4 separate regions of the Homo sapiens genome follow, and all the other regions are linked to region 4. The links come from fine-mapping of genetic effects on gene expression. A gene starts in region 4. Each other region holds a variant in brackets. All regions are shown on one strand. Distances are between the middles of the regions.

Region 1 (5,151 bases), 68 kb after region 4:
GTGTCAATATTTAATTGTCAAGTTCTGAATTTTAGTGAATATTTATTACTTCACAATACACGAGGCTTCTGTTGACCCTGCTTTATTTATCTAACATTAAAAAAACACCAGTTGGTTGCCTCTTCATGCTGGCATGGTCTGCTCCTGTACAAGCGTGTGTAGGGGTGCAGTAAGGAACAAAGGGGGTTTCAACAAAGGCTCGCTGGCCACAAATAGCTCACTCACCTGCATGGCAGAAGAAGGCAAGAAGTGCCTACAAAAACACTGGCAGTACAAATCCAGCCATGTCTACAAAGTTCACGAGCAGGCAAAATGAACCTAAGGCAATAGAAGTCAGTCCATTGGCCACCTCTTTGGTGTGGGAATTTTATTTCATTTTATTTTATTTTATTTTATTTTATCTTTTGAGATGGAGTCTCGCTCTGTCGCCCAGGCTGGAGTGCAGTGGCACAATCTCAGCTCACTGCAACCTCCACCTCCTGGGTTCAGGTGATTCTTCTGCCTCAGCTGCCAGAGTAGCTGGGACTACACGTGCACACCACTGCGCTCAGCTAATTTTTGTATTTTTAGTAGGGATGGGGTTTCACCATGTTGACCAGGCTGGTCTCGAACTCCTGACCTCAAACGATCCGTCCGCCTCGGCCTCCCAAAGTGCTGGGATTACAGGCGGCAGCCACCGCTCCTGGCCAGTGTGGGAATTGATGGGGAAAGGGCAGAGGGAGCCTCTGGGGTGCTGGAAGTGTTCTAGGCCTGGATCTGGACATCTGCACATATAACACTGGAGCTGTGCATTTACAATTTGTGCCCTTTATGTATGCTCTACTTCAATTAAGGAGAACTGAAATTTTAAATAACTATAGAAAAAGCACCACTAGTGCTGTTGCTCAGCAGGATGTGAAGATATGTAATACGAGAAGCTGTACTCAGCCACCTATGGCACTGGGTAACAATTGCGTGGATTATTCCCTTGCAACAGAGTGAACTGGCCTGAATGAGAGCTGGCCTAGGCAGACAATTACAGTGTGGAAAATGGGGACACACCCCATCACCAGATGCCCATGAGAGCTGAACAATATTCAGATTCCTTATCTCTCCTTAACAATAGTAACTACCCTGATCAAGTACCTATTCAGTTCTAAGTGCTTTGTAGATACCGATTTTTTCCACTAGTCTTTACAATAATCTTATATGGTAGGTGTCTTTTGTTCCATTTTATCACTGAATCAATAGTTTAAAGAGACCTTATAACAAGTAAGGGGTGAAGCAAGATTTTAACCTTGGTCTGTGTGGCCTTTTGATCAGTACCATAGGCTCTGAAGACAGATTTCCTGGGTTTGAGTTCCAGCTCCTCATTTCCTTTCTGTGTAAATGTGGGTAAGTTCCTTGACCTCTCTGTGCCTTAATTTTCTCATCTTCAGGAAAGGGCGTAGTGGCAGCTATGTATCACAGAGTTATTTGAGTTAATCTGTGTAAAACACTTAGAACACAGTATGCACTTGGCACATAGTAAGAGCTATACATGTGTTACCGATTACTCTGTTGAATGACACAGGCTTTCAAATGGAAGGGCCAAATCCCATTATTTTCTGGGATATAAAGTAGAAATATAGGCCTAGCCAAACTGTTTGCTCCCTACCTCCCTCCTATGGGTTAACATAGCCCCGAATCCTAGGCACGTGGCAGGCCCATGGGACTGCTTTCCTTCTTCCCCAAGAGAACCCCTGGGTTACAGGCCGGGGGTGGGGTCAAGGTCCCCTGTCACTCCAGATCTCTCCTGCCACCCGTATCCTCAAGGTGGCCTAAGAGAAAATGTTGTTCCAGGCTTGTTGGCAGTTCCTACCTACACTGATGTCAGGCACAGGGGAGTCTGGAAGCTGTTGAAATGAGGACTTTTCCAGCTTGTGCCATCAGGTTTTCTGCCTGGATCTCCAACCCCATTCCCATCTGGATTCTGGTAATTTTCCCCTCCCTGACCACGTGGTGACAGTTGTCCTTGTGTGAACAAGACCCCGCCTCTGAGGTCACCTGTGATGCCTGACCAGAGTCTCTTCCCCAGAAGTCAAGACTTGGAAGTAAGAAATGGTAACATCAGTTGAGATTGTCTTTGAATGGAAGAGATATAAATAGAAGAATGCGGTAGCCGTTTTCCATCTTGTCCACTTGGAAATATACTGAGAA[A/G]GGAAGTGTGCAGCGAGTGTGAGAGGTAAAGCAGAGCCTCAGATAAGAGTGGGGACCAGGAGCAGAGATTGAGAGAGGTGGGTCACTCTGAGGCCTGAGCCACTGTGGGATCACCCAGCATCCTCATCTGCAAATTACCCCTCCTGCTTAAACTGGCTGTAGTGGGTTTCCAGCGCTCATACTTGAAGAGTTCACACAAATACACCTGGACTGAGTAATTCAAGGAACAAAATTCATTGCATGAAGCAATTTTCTTGGAAGCCTTTCTTGAATCCCCTAAATTGGGTTAGGAGCTCCTCTCAAACACAGCTGCTTCCCTTTCCCCATGGACTTACTTGTATCTTAGCCCTAGTTATACTCTTCTTAAAAATATGTCTGTATTAAAAAAGTTATCTTTAAAACCCACAAGGAGTTTCCAAAATGTAGTTTTTTTGAGTTGCAATCTTTAAATGTTTAGGTCTTATTCATGTAGCTCCTGCATTATTTATTTATTTTAATAACAACATAATAGGCTTTAATATTTAGCTTATATTTATTCATTTTACATGAACTCCTTTTTAAATTGAGCATCATCCAGGAGATAGTTAAGAATTGAGGGTTTGAGGTATTAGATATATATTTCTAAACATACGTTAAACTGAATATGTACCTATTAAAAAGAAAAGATAAAACGTTCTACCTAAGATCATCTCACGTACCACTTTGGAAACTCCTGTCCTACCTTACCGGCCCCTTAAAAGCAGGACAGTGACTCATGCACAGCCTGCTTTCTACCCTTGGGCTCAGGGCCCAACATTTCCCCTTTATAGAACTTTTCACAAGAAACCGTCGAATGTGCAATTAGTTTACTTGTCTGACTTGCATGGAAGACCCTTCCATGCATTGTTTACTGCTTTATCCTCAGTGTCTTCAACGAGGTCTGGCACGTAGCTGAGGTTTAATACATATGCATTGGAAGAAATAATGCATGCATTGATAAATGAAAACCAGTTCCAGAATGTTCTACAGCCATGAATGTCAATACATGCTGCTTCTGACTGGTGGGGACACTTGAGGGTGAGCACTCTTGCTCAGTCTCTTACTTTTCTCGCTTGCTCCACTCTGGTGGTGACACTATCAGGTCAAACATGGAAAGTCTTTAGTCCTTAGTTCCATTGGCTGAAGCAGAACAGTCCTCCGACACTGTGATTCATACGCACCCTAACTGGGCATGTGCAGAGCCAGCTGTATAATTGTATAATTTAAACAGCCCAGTTCAAAATGAAAATGTGTGTTCAAAAAGCAGGAGTCCCTATGACTCAGCAATTCCACTTCCAAACATACCCAACAGAATCGAAAGCAGGGACTCAAAGAGATAGTTGCATACCGTGTTCATGGCAGCATTACTTACAATAGCCAAAAGGTGGAACTTAAATGTCCATCTACAGATGAATGGATAAACAAAATGTGACATAGACACACAATGGAATATTATTCAGCTTAAAAAAGGAAGGAAATTCTGACACATGCTACTCACGAAGAACCCCAAGGACATTATGCTGAGTGAAATAAGCCAGTCACAAAAACACAAAAGCTGTATGATTCACTTGTGTGACGTACCGGAGTTGTCAAATTCATAGAGATAGGAAGTAGAATGGTGGTTGTCAGGGGCTGGGGGTAGGGGAAAATGGGGAGTAATGGGTATCACATTTTAGTTTTGCAAGAAGAAAACAGTTTTGAAGATGGGTTGGGTCAGGCATGGTGGCTCAATCCTGTAATCTCAGCACTCTGGGAGGCCGAGGCGGTAGATTGCTTGAGCCCAGGAGTCTGAGACCCGCCTGGACAACATGGCGAAATCCTTTCTCTACTAAACATACAAAACTTAGCTAGGAATGCACCTGTAGTCCCAGCTATTTGGGAGGCTGAGGTGGGAGAATCACTTGAGCTCAGGAGACGGAGGTTGCAGTGAGCTGAGAGATTGCATCACTGCATTCCAGCCTGGGCGACAAAGCGAGATCCTGTCTCCAAAAAAAAAAAAAAAAAAAAAAAAAAGAAAAAAAACAGAAAGCAAGAAAATGGGTTGATAACAACGTGAATGTATTTAACACAACTGAGCAGTACACTTAAAATGGTTAAGAGAGTAATTTTATGTTACATAATTTTTACTACAATTTTTTTTAAAGTAGGAGAAAAGCTTTCTCTCTCACAGTCTCTATCTCTGTCTCTCTCTCTCTCTCTGTCATGTTTTTTTATTTGGTATTGAGTGTCACACTCCCTTGGGCACAAGCATAGGCATTGGGTGAGTGCAGACACTTATAGGTGCCCAGGACCTCATCTTGATGCCCTGGGCATGCAGGGGGTGCATGCCTGGCTCCCACACTCTGAGGAGGGCAGGAAAAGGGGGCAGTGGTTGCTCAGCAGGACCCTATGGAGGGAGCAGGAAAAAGGGGCAGTGGTCACTTGGCAGGACAGGGGAGGGGGTGTTGAAGAACCCTTGCTAGGGAGGCGGCAGGTGCAATGGCAGGAGCTGAGGCTCCAAGTCTTTGGCACATAACTTGACTTACAAAACATTAATTCAAAGATACAATCATTAAGAGTTTTAAGATTGCCACTGCAGAGCACTAAACCTCAATCCCTTCTGTGTGTGGGGCTGGGCAAGTGCACTGTATACAGTCCCCAAGAAGCCAGCCCTGGTTGTGCTGCAGAAACATAACAAAACATCAACCCCGCAGCAGGTGTCCCCAGGGTGCCCGCGAACATGACGCAGCTCTGCATGTATGGGATCCACAGCCAGCAGACATGTGGCTCGAGCATAGCAAAGAGGCTGGAGGGATTGAGTCACTAAGCCAGTGAGCCTTAAAGGGTTATCTGTGGATTTCCCAGGACTAGGGCTTAGGTTTGCCAGAGCCACCCTGACCTCTTTTTACTGATGGTAGAAGTAAATTGAGGCTCAGTGATTTGAAGATTTAGCTGTTAGAGTAAATTATTTTGGGA
Region 2 (5,151 bases), 35 kb after region 4:
CAGCAGGATTTTGGAACTGGAGCTATTGAAAAGCTCATTGAAGATTAATTAATGCAAGAACCAGAGGAATCAGGACAGTATTGAAGCTTCTTCAAGCAAAACGTTTTATTTCCAGCAGCATGTGGAAAAACATATTGTAGATGTCTGTATAAAATATCTCAAACAGCCATCAGAAATTTGGGATGTAATGTTTTTAATAAACCATAGAATGCCTGTTTTAAAGATGTTGAAGTCCTGGAGTAACTAAAAAGGATGGATGAAATGAGTAAATCTGTAGACACAGTGACACTTTTGTCGCTTCTTGAATCATACTTTAAATTATTTGAGTAATAAATGTGACCAGTGACTTCTAGATATTTAAGGAGCTACAATCAGAGTGTGTGTGTGTGTGTGTGTGTGTGTGTGTGTGTGTTAGAGAAACCCTACTTTCACAGGGAATCCAGGGCCAAGAAAGGCTGACATTTCTTGTAATATATTCAGGTGGTGAAAATATGACAGCGTTCAGGCACCCACCCACTTCCAGTTTCACCAGACTCTCCTTCTCGTTGTTGTAGACTCCCTTACTCTTCAGGACTCAACAGATTTCATCTCTGCTGCATCCAGTTTGCTCCTTTTAGTAGAGTGTAATCAGATGCAAATACAAATCACAGCTATTGTCAGAATTCAAATGGGTTCTAATGAGAATTAATATTTTCCATTTGTGAAAGTACTGATTCAGAGCACATAATGAGGCAAAAATTCAAAATTAGGCAGAAGCCACTCATTTCTCAAGCAGAAAGAACTATATTTTATTCATCTTACAGATATTAGAATTTTGCAATCCAGATATCAGAGCTTTATGCTATGAACGATTTCTAATTCCTCAACCAAATCTTACTCTCCATAATAACAACTGAACATATGAATATGTGGCCGAGTTAATTGAACGCTAATGTCTGCACTTTAAAGTTTTATTGTCAGATCTTGTTTCATTAACACAATTATGCAAGAAAGCGTTATATTAAACGTACAACTGTGATATGCTCTACATATTAGTCTGAATTCTTTTGGTTGCAAGTGACAAACTGAACTCACATTGATTTAAAGGAAAAGAGAAAGAAACTTACTGATTTATGTAACTACAAAATTTAGGTATACTTAAGGTACATTTGGACCTAAAGAATTAATTTTTCAATCTCTTTATCTGCTTCTGTTTCTTTTAACTGTTGGTCCATTTAATTGCTATAGTAGATAGCTTTTTCTAATCAAGAAAAGTGTTTCAAAGCAGCTTAAACTTATTGACTTTAGGACTCAAGATCCCAGAAGAAGAAAAAGCCCAGACAGAAAATTCCTTGGGAAGACTGTGCCTCAGTCAGGATTACGGGGCCATCTCAGTAAACCATTATTATGGGCATAGGGCTGGAGCCCTGTCATTGGCCTATCTTGGGTCACATACCCATCTCTGGAACTAATGTGTGGTCAGCATCATCCTCACATTGACCACCTTGAATGAAAGTAGAATGTTTCCCCGAAAAAAAGGATGATATGCAGACGGATGGTGTATTTCCACTCCATTATGGCCTAGCTCGAATGGTAGGTAAGATAGATGCAACTCATGGAAATGCTGCCAAGGACAAGAAGTATCTGGAAGGGGTTCAGGGAAGTTTAATGGAAAAGGCACAGAAGCCATAAAAGTGTCTTAAATTGACATGTCCATGTATGTGTGTATAGTAAAGTTTATATCTGTTGATAGTGAACTTCAAACCTTCAAACAGAACTTTGTACTTTCTTTTTTTTTTGAGACAGAGTCTCGCTCTGTCGCCCAGGCTCTGGAGTGCAGTGGCGCAAACTCAGCTCACTGCAAGCTCCGCCTCCCAGGTTCACGCCATTCTCCTGCCTCAGCCTCCCGAGTAGCTGGGACTACAGATGCCCACCACCACGCCCGGCTAATTTTTTTGTATTTTTAGTAGAGATGGGGTTTCACTGTGTTAGCCGGGATAGTCTTGATCTCCTGACTTCGTGATCCACCTGCCTCGGCCTCCCAAAGTGCTGGGATTACAGGCATGAGCCACCGTGTCCGGCCTGAACTTTGTACTTTCTAAAAAGTAATTCACTACATTTTCTCACTCAGAAAATTCTTGGTTTGTGTGTATGTTTTTTTTTTTTTTTGAGATGAAATCTCGCTGTGTCGCCCAGGCTGGAGTGCAGTGGTATGATCTCAGCTCACTGCATCCTCTGTCTTGGGTTCAAGAGAATCTCCTGCCTCAGCCTCCCGAGTAACTGGGATTACAGGTGCACACTCCCATGCCTGGCTAAATTTTGTATTTTTAGTAGAGACAGGGTTTCACCATGTTGGTCAGGCTGGTTTCGAACTCCTGACCTCAAGTGATCCACCCACCTCAGCCTCCCAAAGTGCTGGGATTACAGACATGAGCCACCATGCCCAGCTAGAAAATTCTTTATGACACAAAATTTGTCTCCCTGTTTCTTCCACCAACTGGACTTGGGACCACTGAGAACAACTATTATGCCTTTCTCAACAGGCTGTTCTTCAGATGTTTGAAGTTAATGGTCACGTCTTTCAGTCTAGTCTTTCCAGAATAAATATTTTTCATTGCCTCATTGTTCCTTGTATAATATGGTGTGAGACCCTTCCCACCCTCATCTGTCTCTGAGCACCCTTGCCTGTCAGAGTACTTGTGAAGGTATATAGCCTTCAACCATTCAGAGTGGGGAGAGCAATGATTGTTCTGTTGTTTTAGATTTTATATTTTTATTAATGTGCCAAGACCACGTTAGTGCCTGGGAAATTTCTTATCTAAATATTAATACACCTTAAGCTTACTATAAAAGAAAACTTCCAAGTTCTTTTCATGAAAACTTTACATCTTCTTTATGCCTACTTGTTCAGCTGGTTTTGGCCTCAAATTTTTAATGTAAAAAAATTTTTCAGTTTTATATTTTTCATGAAGTCACCATGTCTGTCTTAATAGCACAATAGAGAAGCAGTAAAGAGTAGTGAATGCTCACATAAACTTTAAAAAACTTTTATATTTAAAAGTAAACCAGATGCAAAAGAAGCTACAAAACAAATGTTTGCTTAATGACTTATAAGACAAACAATCAGGTCAAGAAATAGAATTTCACCAGT[C/T]ACTCCAGAAGCCCCTCCATAAGGTCTACCCTAGTCTTAATCCCTGCCTCCCCAATAATACACCACTCTGTTTATATGGTAAAATAAGCTAACCTGGCAATCAATCATGTGTAATATTTAAATACTTTTATTATCTAAATGTACATCAATAGACAGTATAATCTTGTCCATTTAAAAAATTAACAGCTGTTAAGTCTCTTAATCTCTAGTTTTCCCTCCATCTCTTCCTCTTAAAATTTATCTGTTGCATTTGACCTGAATAGTTATCTACAGTGTGGATTTTTAAATTACATAATCATAGCTTGAGTCAACATCTTCCTCCATCCTGTGTATTTCCCGCAAATTGGTAGTTGGAGCCAAAGTCTTGATCAGATTCATGCTTAATCCTTTCTCCTAAGGCCGTAGGCCGTGGTGTGTTCTGTGGAGAAGAGGCACATAATGTCTGGTCATTTCTTTCTGTAGTTGCAGCTCTTGATGCTCAATGCCTTGATTCATTACTTCCCTGGGATTTGGAAATAGTGAAATTTTAATTCTATTATTTCTTGCAGTTTATTTAGTGTAAAACTCTTTATAAGGAGACACTTCACACATCTGCAATTTGGTTATGGAGTGGACTAGTTCATACAGAAAGACAGGATGATACTTTTTTCTTTCCATTTATTTAATAGTTTTCAAGATGAATTGATTTTCTATCATTTTCTGAAGGTGAACAACAATTTGGGTTAAAAAATGTTATTATAAACTCATTGATTTAATGGGTCTATGATTGCAATTATCCCTTTGAAGCTCACTTGTTCCTTCTTTGGCCAGTGGGAGCCTCTTCAAGTCAGTTTCTCAGTATTTTTGACATGGCCCTAGTAGTCTTTGATAGCCTCCTTGCTATCTGGTATAACAAAGTGCATCTTGTTCATTTTCTGCCTCGGACTTGGAATCAGTCACTTCCTCAAAGATATTCAAGCCTCTTTGGGTAGAAAGGGTATTTTAATACCATAATCTGGGTGTTTCTAGGCTCTTAGTAGGCAGAGTTAATACATACCTCCGACAACTCTATGCTATGTAGTCTTATGAATTTATATCGATACTTTTAATTAAAATTCAGAGATGTAAGGTTTTTTCTTAATCTGTTATATTACTTCTGTATCTTGTTTTTCCATACTGAGAATCTAAGAATCCTGGTTCTCAAGGACTTGAGGAATAATCAAATTAGAAATTTCATAAGTATTTATTTTCTTTTTTCCTCATTGCACACACAGTCTAAGATAAGAATATCTACAGTAATACTGTTCTACCACCACCAGTTAAAATTGTTTTTGCAGATGTGCTCCCTATCATCCTCTACTCTTTGCAATTATATAAAATCTATGCTGCCTGAACATGTAGACATTGTATGTTGTTCTCTTTCCTTTTTATCCTAAATATAATTTAGCTCTACAAGTAAATGCATATTTAATATTCACCAGTCCTTATTTTGATGTTTCTCAATCAAATTTGAAGTTCATTCTTTAGTATATTCTTCAGTAAAGGCTCATGCAAATAGTATTTCCTAAGTTCTTGCCATGTCAAATAGTTTATTGCCCTTATATTTGAAAGTCAGTTTAGCTGGTTATATAATAATTGGTTCAGTTTTCCTTGAGTGTCTAAAATCTGTTATTCTACTTTCTCTGGCATATGTATTGCTGCTAAAAATTCTGGAATTCTGATGGCAATTTACTTGCCATCAGAAATATACTGGTTTTATCTAGATGACTGCAGTGTTTTTTCTTTCTCTTTAAAGTCTAGTAATTTTACTGAAACATGACTTGATGTTGGTCATTATGGGTCATTATTCTCAAATACATGGTGGCCCCTTCAGTATATAGTTTCAAACATATCTTTTAATTTTAAGAAAGTTTTCATGAATTATATTTTTTAGTATTTATTGTGTTTTTTTATTTTGGGTTTCTTCTTCTGGGATTCCTATTACCTATAAAATGGATCCTTTGCCTAATTTTAATATTTGTTATTTTTTTTTTAATTCTTTT
Region 3 (5,151 bases), 91 kb after region 4:
AATTGCTCTGGGGTAGAGAATGTGCTCATATCCTCTCAGCTGGAGCTGGGCCCAGCAGGTTTTTGATGCTGGTGATCAAATTAACCTCAGACAGGAGGAATTTCCTGCCTTGCTTGTTTGTTTAATAAAAGAACAAGAATTGGAAAACAGTTAAGTTGGAGAAATGAGTATATGTTCATTCTTGCCTATTAACCATCATAAATCCCAAAGGATTTAGAGTTTGTAGGAAGATCACTGACTCTACACTCTGTAACGGCCCCTTTGCCGAGAGGTATCTGTCCACAGCAGTTGAGTATCAGATGGGATGGTGGCTCCCCAAACCACACCAAAACAGCTTGGTGTTAAGGCAAAGCCAAGTTCATTACATACCCCAGTAAAGGGGATTCTGAGACTGAGGAGTGCCTCAGAAAAGAGGGCAAATGTGGTGGTCATTGAATATGTTGAACCCTGAGTGAGTGAGTTTTTGATGTGGGGGTGGATTAGAATTGGGAAAGTTTGGGACATATTAGGGTCAGGGGACACAGGGAGGTGAGGATTTGGGCTAGATTGCTGCTATTTTTGGTCCTGAGAAGGCAGGTAAATGGACTTAGATTTTCAGGAAATTCTGCAAAGAAACCATAAATTACCTACAAGCTCACCTTCCCAAGGGAGTTTCTGGGAGCAGTGGTGTTGGTGGATGGTGGGTGGAAGGAACATGGTGTGAGCGTGCACAGGATGCTGCAGGTGTGCGGATGCCTGCTCTCCTGAGGGCTGGTGTAGAGGACCCCAGGAAGGCTTCCCTGGCTTTTGTCCCCTGTCCTCAAGATAGCTTCTGTCGTTTGTAAAACTCCATGTTGCTCAGCACAGGCCCTTTGGAGTCAGTTTCCAGATGTCTGGTATCACAGAGCCCCCTCTTCTGTCTCATTTTTCTCTTGGACACACGGTGGCACAGAGTTCGAGATGCAGGAGGCAAAAGGTTGACAGCCACTGGGGAGGCCCATGTGCATCAGACCTCAGTGCACACAGAACAGTGCTCAGACCAAGGGAAGGCACCCGGGCACCCACACCTTTCCTGGGGCCCATTGGGGCTGTGCTGCAGGCCAGGCTGACCCAGCCCCAGGGCTCCCAGAGTGTTTCTGAAATTGCCAACTTTAATTAAAAAATATATATTTAATAAATAAAAAAATTAAAAATAGTACATGTTCAGTAGAGAAAATTTTTTATAGTTTTTAAAATTGTGATAAAATATACATAACTAAAATTCACAATTTTAACCATCTTTAGGTGTAAAATGAGTGGCATTAAGTACATTCACAATGTTGTGCAAACATCACTTCCCACCTCTAGAACTTCCCCATTCCCTCAAACAGAAACTCTGTGCCTATTAAATAGCAACTCCCCGTCCTCCCCTCTCCCAGCTCTTGGTAACCACATTCTATTTCCCTTCTCTATGAATCTGACTACTCTAGGTGTTACTGGAAAGGGGTACCAATCCAGATCTCAAGAGAGGGTTCTTGGATCTTGTGCAAGAAAGAATTCACGGTGAGTCCGTATAGTAAAGTGAAAGTAAGTTTATTAAGAAAGTAGAGGAATAAAGGAATGGCTACTCCACAGACAGAGCAGCCCTGAAAGCTGCTGGTTGCCCATTTTTATGGTTATTTCTTGATTGTATGCCAAACAAGGGGTGGATTATTCATGCCTCCCCTTTGTAGACCATATAGTATAACTTCCTGATGTTGCCATGGCATTTGTAAACTGTCATGGCGCTGGTGAGGGTGTAGCAGTGAGGACGACCAGTGGTCACTCTCATCATCATCTTGGTTTTGGTTTGGGTTTTAGCCTGCTTCTTTACTGCAAGCTGTTTTATCAGCAAGGTCTTTATGACCTGTATCTTGTGTCAATCTCCTATCTCATCCTGTGACTTAAAATGCCTTAACCTCCTGGGAACGTGGCCCAGCAGGTCTCAGCGTCATTTTACCCAGCCCCTATTCAAGATGGAGTTGCTCTAGTCCAGATGCCTCTGACATTTTCCCTGCTTTTTAAATAACAAAACCCTTAATCCTAAGGGTTGCAGAGGGATGAAGATCCATCATTTTCTGTTACTTCTTTGGGCTGAGTAGGGGCGATGATATTCCCAAGTCTCTTGTGTTCAGGATAGAGAGGAGCTTAGAAAGCATAAGTATGTTGAGGGACACTCATAACTCTGAGTTCCAACAAAAGGTGATATCCAGAAGATGAATAAGTGTTTAATTTAAGAAAACATTCGGTAAGCTTATCCTGCTTTTTTTTTTTTGTTTTTGAGACGGAGTCTGTCTGTCACCAGGCTGGATTGCAGTGGCGCGATCCTGGCTCACTGCAACCTCTGACTCCCCAGTTCAAGTGATTCTCCTGCCTCAGCCTCCTGAGTAGCTAGGATTACGCCACCACGTCAAGCTAATTTTTGTATTTTTAGTAGAGCTGAGGTTTCACGATATTGGCCAGGATAGTCTCGATCTCCTGACCTTGTGATCTGCCCGCCTCGGCCTCCCAAAGTGCTGGGATTACAGGCGTGAGCCACCG[C/T]GCCCGGCCGCTTATCCTGCATTTCTACACAAAGAGTACAACAATATATTCCACAACAGTAAAGCAAAATAAGCAAAATTATCTCAAGTTAACTAAATTAGAAGGCTTTCCATGAACTGGGCAACTATTGGAACCAAGCTGATATGGGGTTGCTAGATGATTCCAATACATGCTCAGGATTAGAATATTGATCCAGATTTTTATATTACCCATCCCTCTTGTTTCTTCTAAGCAGCAGCCAGAGATCACTGGTTGCTTCATAGGAATAAGCAGGGCTAGTCTAAATTACAGGAAAAAAACTCAAAAATAACTGATGAGACTAAAGTTTAATAACAAATGTACCATAGTTCTTGAAACATAATTTTTCTCTCTCTAGTTTCCCATTTTTCACTAAAGACAAATCATGGTAAGACTGATTTGGTTTATTATACTTGGCTTGATTATTTGTATAAAGTGCAGCAAGAATAATTATTTTTCACATAAGCTCTTTTTAAATTGGCTTTGATGGAACTCTGTTCCATAAGAAGGAATCTTAGATAAGACTTTTTTAGAGCCGAGCCATGGATTTGTACCCTCAAATACCTATGAGTTGAGTAACTTCCTCTCCTCTTGAGGTTCCCAGATAACTTGGGGCTCTTAGGCCTTTTCCCAGATAACTTGGTGGGGTCCTAGGCCTGTTAGAAAGTGACATTCTTTACTTACCACAGGTCAGGAAACCTGTACAGGGACTGTGTAGACAAGGTGTGAGGCCAGTTTTCCCAAGGGGCTTTTATTGGATCTATAAGTCAAGTTTAATTCCTTAAAGGAAAACACACCATTCCAGTCAAAGCCTTGGTAAAAATAACCAGTTTTTCCAATTGTGTCCTATTGCAAAAGAAACAGATTCTTATTGCACTATGTTGCCTTAAGATACTCACAAATAGTTTCCAAATTCTGGAGGAATCAGGTAGAGAGAAACAAATATGCTCCAAATTTTGTTCACAGGAGTATAATTTACTTAATTGTCAAAAGCTGTAAATAGCTTAAGTTTCCTTGACTTTGAAAAACAAAACAAAGGATCAGCACGGTTTTAAGCGAAAAGTCAAAAAAGATTACTTCAATGTTTAATTTACAGAAAAACTGAATGCTCCTTTAGCTTTAGCTAATATGTTGGCACATGGAATCTCTTTTACAATTAATTGTTCACAAACCTTCTACAACTTGTTCAAACCTTTGGCTTTATCCTAACTCAAAACAACACTTTAACCCTTTAATCTAGGCAAAAAAAATCCACATTTCCTTGACTGTTTATATATATATATATATATTTTTTTTTTACCAAAAACACATTTCACTTTCCTTACATGCCTTACACATAGAACTGTTTCTTTAGTAGTCTTAACTATATGTTACAATGTTAACTCTTAGTGACTTTTACTTTTGGTGAAAACCTTGGTAAGTTCAGGGGTTTAATTATGTACTAGTGTGGAGCCTAGGACCCAGTCAGAAGTGCAGATAAGGTCTGATTCTTTCCGTTGTCTAACTCCATGTGTCCCAGGCCTTACCAAGCTGTACATTTAAGAGTCATAGTGGTGTTTTTTTGAAGCATTTAGGAGGCCTAATCACCTTTAAATTGTACATTTCTTGCATAAATCCCCTTTATAAATTCTTTTACAATGTACACAGACCATCTACAACCTGCTTTGACTTTCTGACTTGTCCTAAACATCCCTCTTTTTAAACAACCAGTCATTTTACTTTAGGACAAGAATTTACCATACAAAATCCTTTCTTATATAAAATCTCTTTTCTTTATAACCTTCTTTGCATAGATAGGGGGCACGCTAATTTCACATGTTCCCAGGCCTTATCTAGAATCTAATGCTCCAAAATAAATTGAACAATTTTCAAAAGTCAAAGAAGCAGTTTATGACCTTAAAGCATTTAGCAAACTTAATATCTGACTGCATAATTTAGACCAAATGTCTTTGTTTTACCAATAATCTTTAAGGCTGTTTTTATTTCCCAAAGATTACTAAAGTCATGTGAACTAAAAGGCATTACACTTTTTACTTTTCTGAAAAAATATTTTATTTAAGCACTTATTTTTAAACCAATTAATCAAAGCTCTTTCATATCACACACACAACACATACAAATACACAGACATTCAGCAGGTAAAGGACTCATTCCATAAGCCAGGAATTGAACCCTGAACCCGGGCTGCCATTGTGAAAAGAGAAAGCAAGGCCACATGGTTCCCAAGGACATAGAAGACAGGAGGGAAACCCCATCCAGTTTATTTTTTTCATGCATCTGCAGCAAAGTTTATAACTGACCAGTTTACTAGGCCATCTTGAAGAGTAGGCTTATGGGTTCTAAGGCCATGTTCTATCCTAAGGTACCCCTCTTTATGACAGAACAATACAGAAAGACACACAAAGCACACCAGATTCACTACAGCTTAAGACTAGGCTCACAAATCCTTTTTTCTATTAACCAAAACTTTATAGAGGAGATAAACAATGATTTTTGTCGTGCGTTCAACTGGTTTGCACAGAGAAAGAAAGGAAAGGGAAGGGAGAAAAGCATTGTCTGTGGCAGGGTGGGGAAGGCGAGGCACTCAGGGAAGCC
Region 4 (5,151 bases):
ATAAAGGCTTAGAACAGTAGGTGGCACATACTAAATGCTAAGAAAGTGCTTGCTATTACCTTCAGTTGATTTAGTCTCTCCCAGAGCTTCCATTGCCATTTTTAGGTAAATAGTACCCAAATGCAATGTCATCATGAAGACCTCCCTTCTGAGTTCCAGACAGATATACCCAACTGCTGATTCATCATCTTTACTTGGATGTCTTGCAACACCTCAGACACAGTGTGTTGAAAATGAAATGTCTCATATCTTGCCCAAACTTGGTTTGGAATAGATCACCAGCTACTTTGAGAATCTGATAAAAAAAAAAAGTTCTCTTCTCATACAAATTCACAAAGCACATCATTTTGCATACAACTTGAAGGAATTCATGGACCCCAAATTAAGGATCACTGCCTTAGCAGATGTGTCACTTGAGCTGAGTCCTGAAAGAAGAGTAGAGTTTCACCTGGCAGACAGGCAAGTCAGGTGGGAAGGGCAGAGCTGGCAAAGAGGGCAGCTTGACAAAGGCGAGGAAACAGAAAAATACAAGGCGCAAAGAAGGACCTGCTGAGAAACAAGGCCAGGGAGGGAAGAAGGGACTCCATAACAGGAGTCAGGGCATATAGGCCACGTTAAATTCCTTGCATTTGTAGATAACAGAGCCATAAAAGTTTGAAAGGGAGAGACATGATCAGATTTGCATTTTAAAAATACTAACGATAGCAAACACTTGTTGTCTTCTATGTGCTTTCTACATAATCTCTGTGAAAGCTGGATAGGGTAAGGGGTGGGGGCAAGCTCTGGAAAAGCAGGGAAACGATGAACAGCTTTTTGATAACTGAAATTCAAGGGCTCTGTGAATATATGGCAAACACAAAACTAATTAGCATACATTGAAATGCATGCTATTTTACCTTTAGCTTAAGGATACTAGTGATACAGTAAGAATTCCTTTTTTTTTGGAGATGGAGTTTTGCTCTTGTTGCCCATGCTGGAGTGCAATGGCGTGATCTCAGCTCATGGCAACCTCCGCCTCCCGGGTTCAAGCGATTCTCCTGCCTCAGCCTCCCGAGTAGCTGGGATTACAGGCATGCGCCACCACACCTGGCTAATTCTGTATATTTTTTAGTAGGGATGAGGTTTCTCCATGTTGGCCAGGCTGGTCTCAAACTCCCGACCTCAGGTGATCCGCCCACCTCGGCCACCCAAAGTGCTGGGATTATAGGCGCGAGCTACCGCACCTGGCCAAGAATTCTTTAAACAATTCTGTCCTGTTACAACTACACATTTTAGTGACAGAGGCTGAGAACAGAAGCTCTGGTGTCAGCAGGAGTGGGGAGCCCCTCCCAGGAGGCCTGGCCGCTGTCATGCTGATGTCCAGATCCTGGGGCGATGTCACCCCCTGGGTCCAGGACTTCCTCTCCCTTCTCTAAGACAGAGCCCTTGAAAAAAATATCAGTTTTAGGTGAGTTCTGCAAATTGAAAATGAATAGACTAGTGAATGCTTTATTTAACGCAGTTACAAATAAGCTGGTTAATTTTGCTTTGTTTCTTCTATTCATGGTCCAGCTAACTAATGGCAGAAAAAAAAAGCCAATAATCTTGTTAAAGTTGATAAATGCCACTTACACAAAGAGTGGGAAGAAGAAAGGAAGTTTGGCATTTAGCATCAGGTTACTCCACCAGATTATAATTGGGTGCTGTAGAGAGCTATGAATAAGTTTGGATAACAGAGAAAGCCCATTGCTGGGTGAATGCCCTAGGGAGTAAAGTCCCGCATTTGGGCTAGGAGTGGTGGGGCAGGAGGGGCCCTGTGGGGAGCTTTGCCGGGGTTGGGTTAGAACTCTGGGTCGATCGTGGGCCTGGATTCTCTACCTGCCCTCACAGGGTTGCCAAATCCTGAGATTAGTCTAAAACCTCTCCGACCTTCCAGGAATGAGGCTTTCTGTAGTCTAGGCAGCTCCCGCCCTCCCCCAGGATTACTCCAGATAGGAAAAAACACCCTTTCCTCCTGGGTCAGTACCCGCGGCCTGGATGTGGTGCTGACTCTGCACAGGAAAGTCCTTTAGAGACAGAGGCTGCCTGGAAGCCTTTATAACGACATTCATCTCCTAAAAGGCATTTTGTCTTTTCTTCCGCTCAGGAAAACAGTGTTTGGAGACTAACTAATTAGTCTCCAAAGGTTTGAGCCCATTGTTTGAGTCCGCTGAAGCGAAGAGAATATTAAAAAAAAAAAAAGGCAGGGCTAGATCCTAATCCCAACACCATCTCCATCCCGCCGGTACAACAGGCCAAAGGGTCCAGCTGGGACAGGTGCACTTAGAGGTGAGGAAGTTCGGCGGGACTGGAGGAGTCGGGGAGGGGGACTCGGCAGCACAGATTAAAGTCCCACGATGAAGCCATATAACGAGAAATGCCATCCTCCTAGCCGACTTCGGAAAGACTTTTAGGTGCGGGTGTCCCACCCTGCTTTTCTTCCTCTCCCGATCTCCAGGGCCGGACTCCAGGGGGCTCCGGAGCTACAGGAGGAAAGTCCCCGAGGAAGGAGGAAACAAGTGCAAGAGCATCTCCTGTCTCTAGCGATGCAGACAAGGGGTCTTTGCATCCGCCTGGCGCTCTGCATCGCCTCACAGGATGGGTGGGCTTGCACTGAACCTTGAGTCCTTCCACTTTCCTCCCCCCGGGTGGTGCCCGCCCTGCCCAGGGCAGCGCGGCCCGCCCAGGAGAGAGCGGGGGATCCGGCAGGAGGAGAAGCCCCGCGCCCCGGTCCCGTCGCACGGATCAGGAGGGTCCCCGTCCGGGGAGGAGCCGCCGCGCAACTCGGAGAGCGCCCCCCGCCCGCGGCCCGGCCCGGCGCGGCTCACCCTCCGGTCTCGGCGCCCGAGTCCACGCAGTCGTCCTCCTCGCCGCCGCCGCCCGCCTTTGGGTCCATGGTGCACGTCCCGGCCGCGCTCGGCTTGCGGGCGCCGTCGTGACCCGGGGCGCCCTCCCTCCCGGCCGCCCAGTCCGAGCCGGCCGGGCTCCCTCCGAGCGTCTGGCGGCCCGGGAGCCGGCAAACAACTCAAGCGCCAGCCGCGAACCCCGCGCCGCGCCCTCTCCCGACCGCGCCCGGCTGGGCACCCGCGCCTGCGCCCGCGCCCGCCCCGCCCCTCGCCGTCCGGCGGGACCCGCGTGTGCGCGCGGCGGTGCGCGGGGAGTGCGCGTGCGAGCGCGTGTGCGAGCGCGTGGGGGGCGTGTGAGCGTGAGTGGCCGAGGTGTGTGGTCTCACACCCGTGCGTCTGTGCATGCGGTGTGATGTGGGTGCGGTGTGCACTCCTGGTTGCACGCGACTGTGGCTGTGCTGAGCGCGTGTGCCCGTCTGTGGTGCGTGACCGCGTGTGTGTTGTGGGGGCGGGGTAAGTGTGCACACGAGAGCCGCCTCTCTCCCCCAGGCCCACAGTCCGGGAATCCCGAGCCCCAGGGCTTGCCACGAGGTTCCCCACCTCCTGATCTGGGAGGAGCACTGAGAAAACCAACCTCAGCGCATCGTGAAAGCTGGGAAGGATTTGTTTCCCTTTTGGGACCAATTCGAACACCTGGGTGTTTTCTTATAGTTTCTGAAGAATTGCTGACGCCAAATTCATTATCACCTTTCTCAGTACACGTCTGAGCGGCATCCCACCCCCTCAACTTGCCAGTTTACAATAGGTGTCATGCATTCTTTTGCTACTTAAAAAAAAAAAAGCCTTTAAAAATAATTTAAAGAGCATTGAATGAACCTGCAATTCACGGGTTGTTGCAGCAAGGGGATAACCTTAGGGTGAGTTAATGATCGCTATTGGAGGGGCTCACCTCCTATTAGGAGGGTGAAGAGGGAGGCAAGTTGGCAGGGCGGGCGGAAGGAGACTTCGAACAACTTGAATTTAGTTCTGACAGCCCTATCCAAACCATTGGGAGGAATTGTCCTTACTGAGCCTAAAATTTCTTGCACCCCAAACAGCAATGGACATATTGGTGGGCATTAGCTGAAAGAAAGGAGCGTGCCAGTTCTTCAAGGGAGATTCCCCTGCCCATTTTTTATCTTGCAGCCAGGAGGGAACCTGCCTTTATTTACTCTGTGTGGGAACAATTCAAACTGTGCCTCATTTGATCCTCAGGGAAGTGCTGTGAAACAGGCTTACTTTTCTATTTTACCGTCAAGGAAACTAAACCCTACCGAGTTCGAGTGCCTGGTCCCAGGACACCCTATCAGTGAGCAGGGAAGCCAGGTAGTCCACTTAAGGTAGCTGGAGCCTGTGCCACTTACCTAGAAGGCTGATGAGTGGGCCAGTTGTATCCTCAGGAAGATGGTACTAAGGAAAAGGCCAGGGAAGAAAGGGTGAAATCAGCATGACTTTTAGAAGATGGGCTTTGGAAAATGAGATGCTATTTAAATGATTTCTGCCTTTCTCAAATATCCAGAGAAAGGGCATGCCAGACCAAAACCTCAAGCCACATCTCAAAATGATGCATGGATTCAGGTTCCCCTCGCCCACAGGGGACACAGTGTTATCATTCATCATTGGCATAGCAGTCTAATGGCAACTCAGTGATGCATTTATTATATGGAAGAGAAGCTTGAACGGTATCACTGTATTCTAGTGATGCATGGCTTTCTGCTTCAGTTCCCAGGTTTTAAAAGCCTCACTTCATTTTTTGCTTGTTTGTTTGAGACAGGGTCTTACTCTGTTGCCCAGGCTAGAGTACAGTGGCACAATCACAGCTCACTACAGCCTCCACCTCCCTGATTCAAGTGATCCTCCCAGCCTCCTGAGTAGCTGGGACTACAGGCGTGCCACCATGCCCAGCTGAGTTTTAATTTTTTTGTAGAGAAAAATATGTTGCCTAGGCTGGTCTCGAACTCCTGGCCTCAAGTGATCCTCCTGCCTCGGCCTCTCAAAGTGCTGGGACTATAGGCATGAGGCATTGCACCTGGCCCATTTTTTGGGAGGGCGGGGTATAAGAGTTGCTGGCAGGTAACCAGCACAAGAACCTTCAAGTGATCACTGCAGGGTATCTAGCCCCTAAACTTACATGGTTCCCACACTCCATAGTCCAGCTGTTTAATGTCAGTCTCTTTAATCATGGGGGTACGATGCTCTCCTCCACCCCTTTAAGATGGGGACAGAAAAGTGTCACTGGTCTGCTTAG

Alleles and levels. Alleles are on the strand shown, and positions count from the first base shown. SD is a standard deviation of normalised expression in the study named. Not every link is listed here.
For the expression in monocytes after LPS of the gene that starts at base 3,018 in region 4, A is the low allele of the variant in region 1 and G is the other (large effect, 0.86 SD a copy in Quach 2016).

The links. PIP is the estimated chance that this variant, and not a neighbour inherited with it, causes the effect.
Region 1: its variant is fine-mapped to the expression of FAM124A in monocytes after LPS (Quach 2016, PIP 0.95).
Region 2: its variant is fine-mapped to the expression of FAM124A in lung (TOPMed, PIP above 0.99).
Region 3: its variant is fine-mapped to the expression of FAM124A in breast (GTEx, PIP above 0.99).

The regions. Positions count from the first base shown.
Region 1 is chr13:51,152,689-51,157,839 of GRCh38, reverse strand. It overlaps a transcript of C13orf42 not described here. Among named protein-coding and RNA genes, the nearest start is that of C13orf42, 44 kb to the right of the region's middle. The variant A/G (reference allele first, on the strand shown) is at 2,179.
Region 2 is chr13:51,185,734-51,190,884 of GRCh38, reverse strand. It overlaps LOC107984554 (a long non-coding RNA gene), which reads left to right. Exons shown (of 2, transcript XR_007063803.1): 2 at 1-222. Among named protein-coding and RNA genes, the nearest start is that of FAM124A, 34 kb to the left of the region's middle. The variant C/T (reference allele first, on the strand shown) is at 3,131.
Region 3 is chr13:51,129,557-51,134,707 of GRCh38, reverse strand. It overlaps a transcript of C13orf42 not described here. Among named protein-coding and RNA genes, the nearest start is that of C13orf42, 21 kb to the right of the region's middle. The variant C/T (reference allele first, on the strand shown) is at 2,539.
Region 4 is chr13:51,220,265-51,225,415 of GRCh38, reverse strand. It overlaps FAM124A (family with sequence similarity 124 member A), which reads right to left and starts at 3,018. Exons shown (of 4, transcript NM_001242312.2): 1 at 2,847-3,018. The coding sequence starts at 2,914. RefSeq lists silencers at 3,070-3,129, 3,250-3,299 and an enhancer at 3,080-3,870.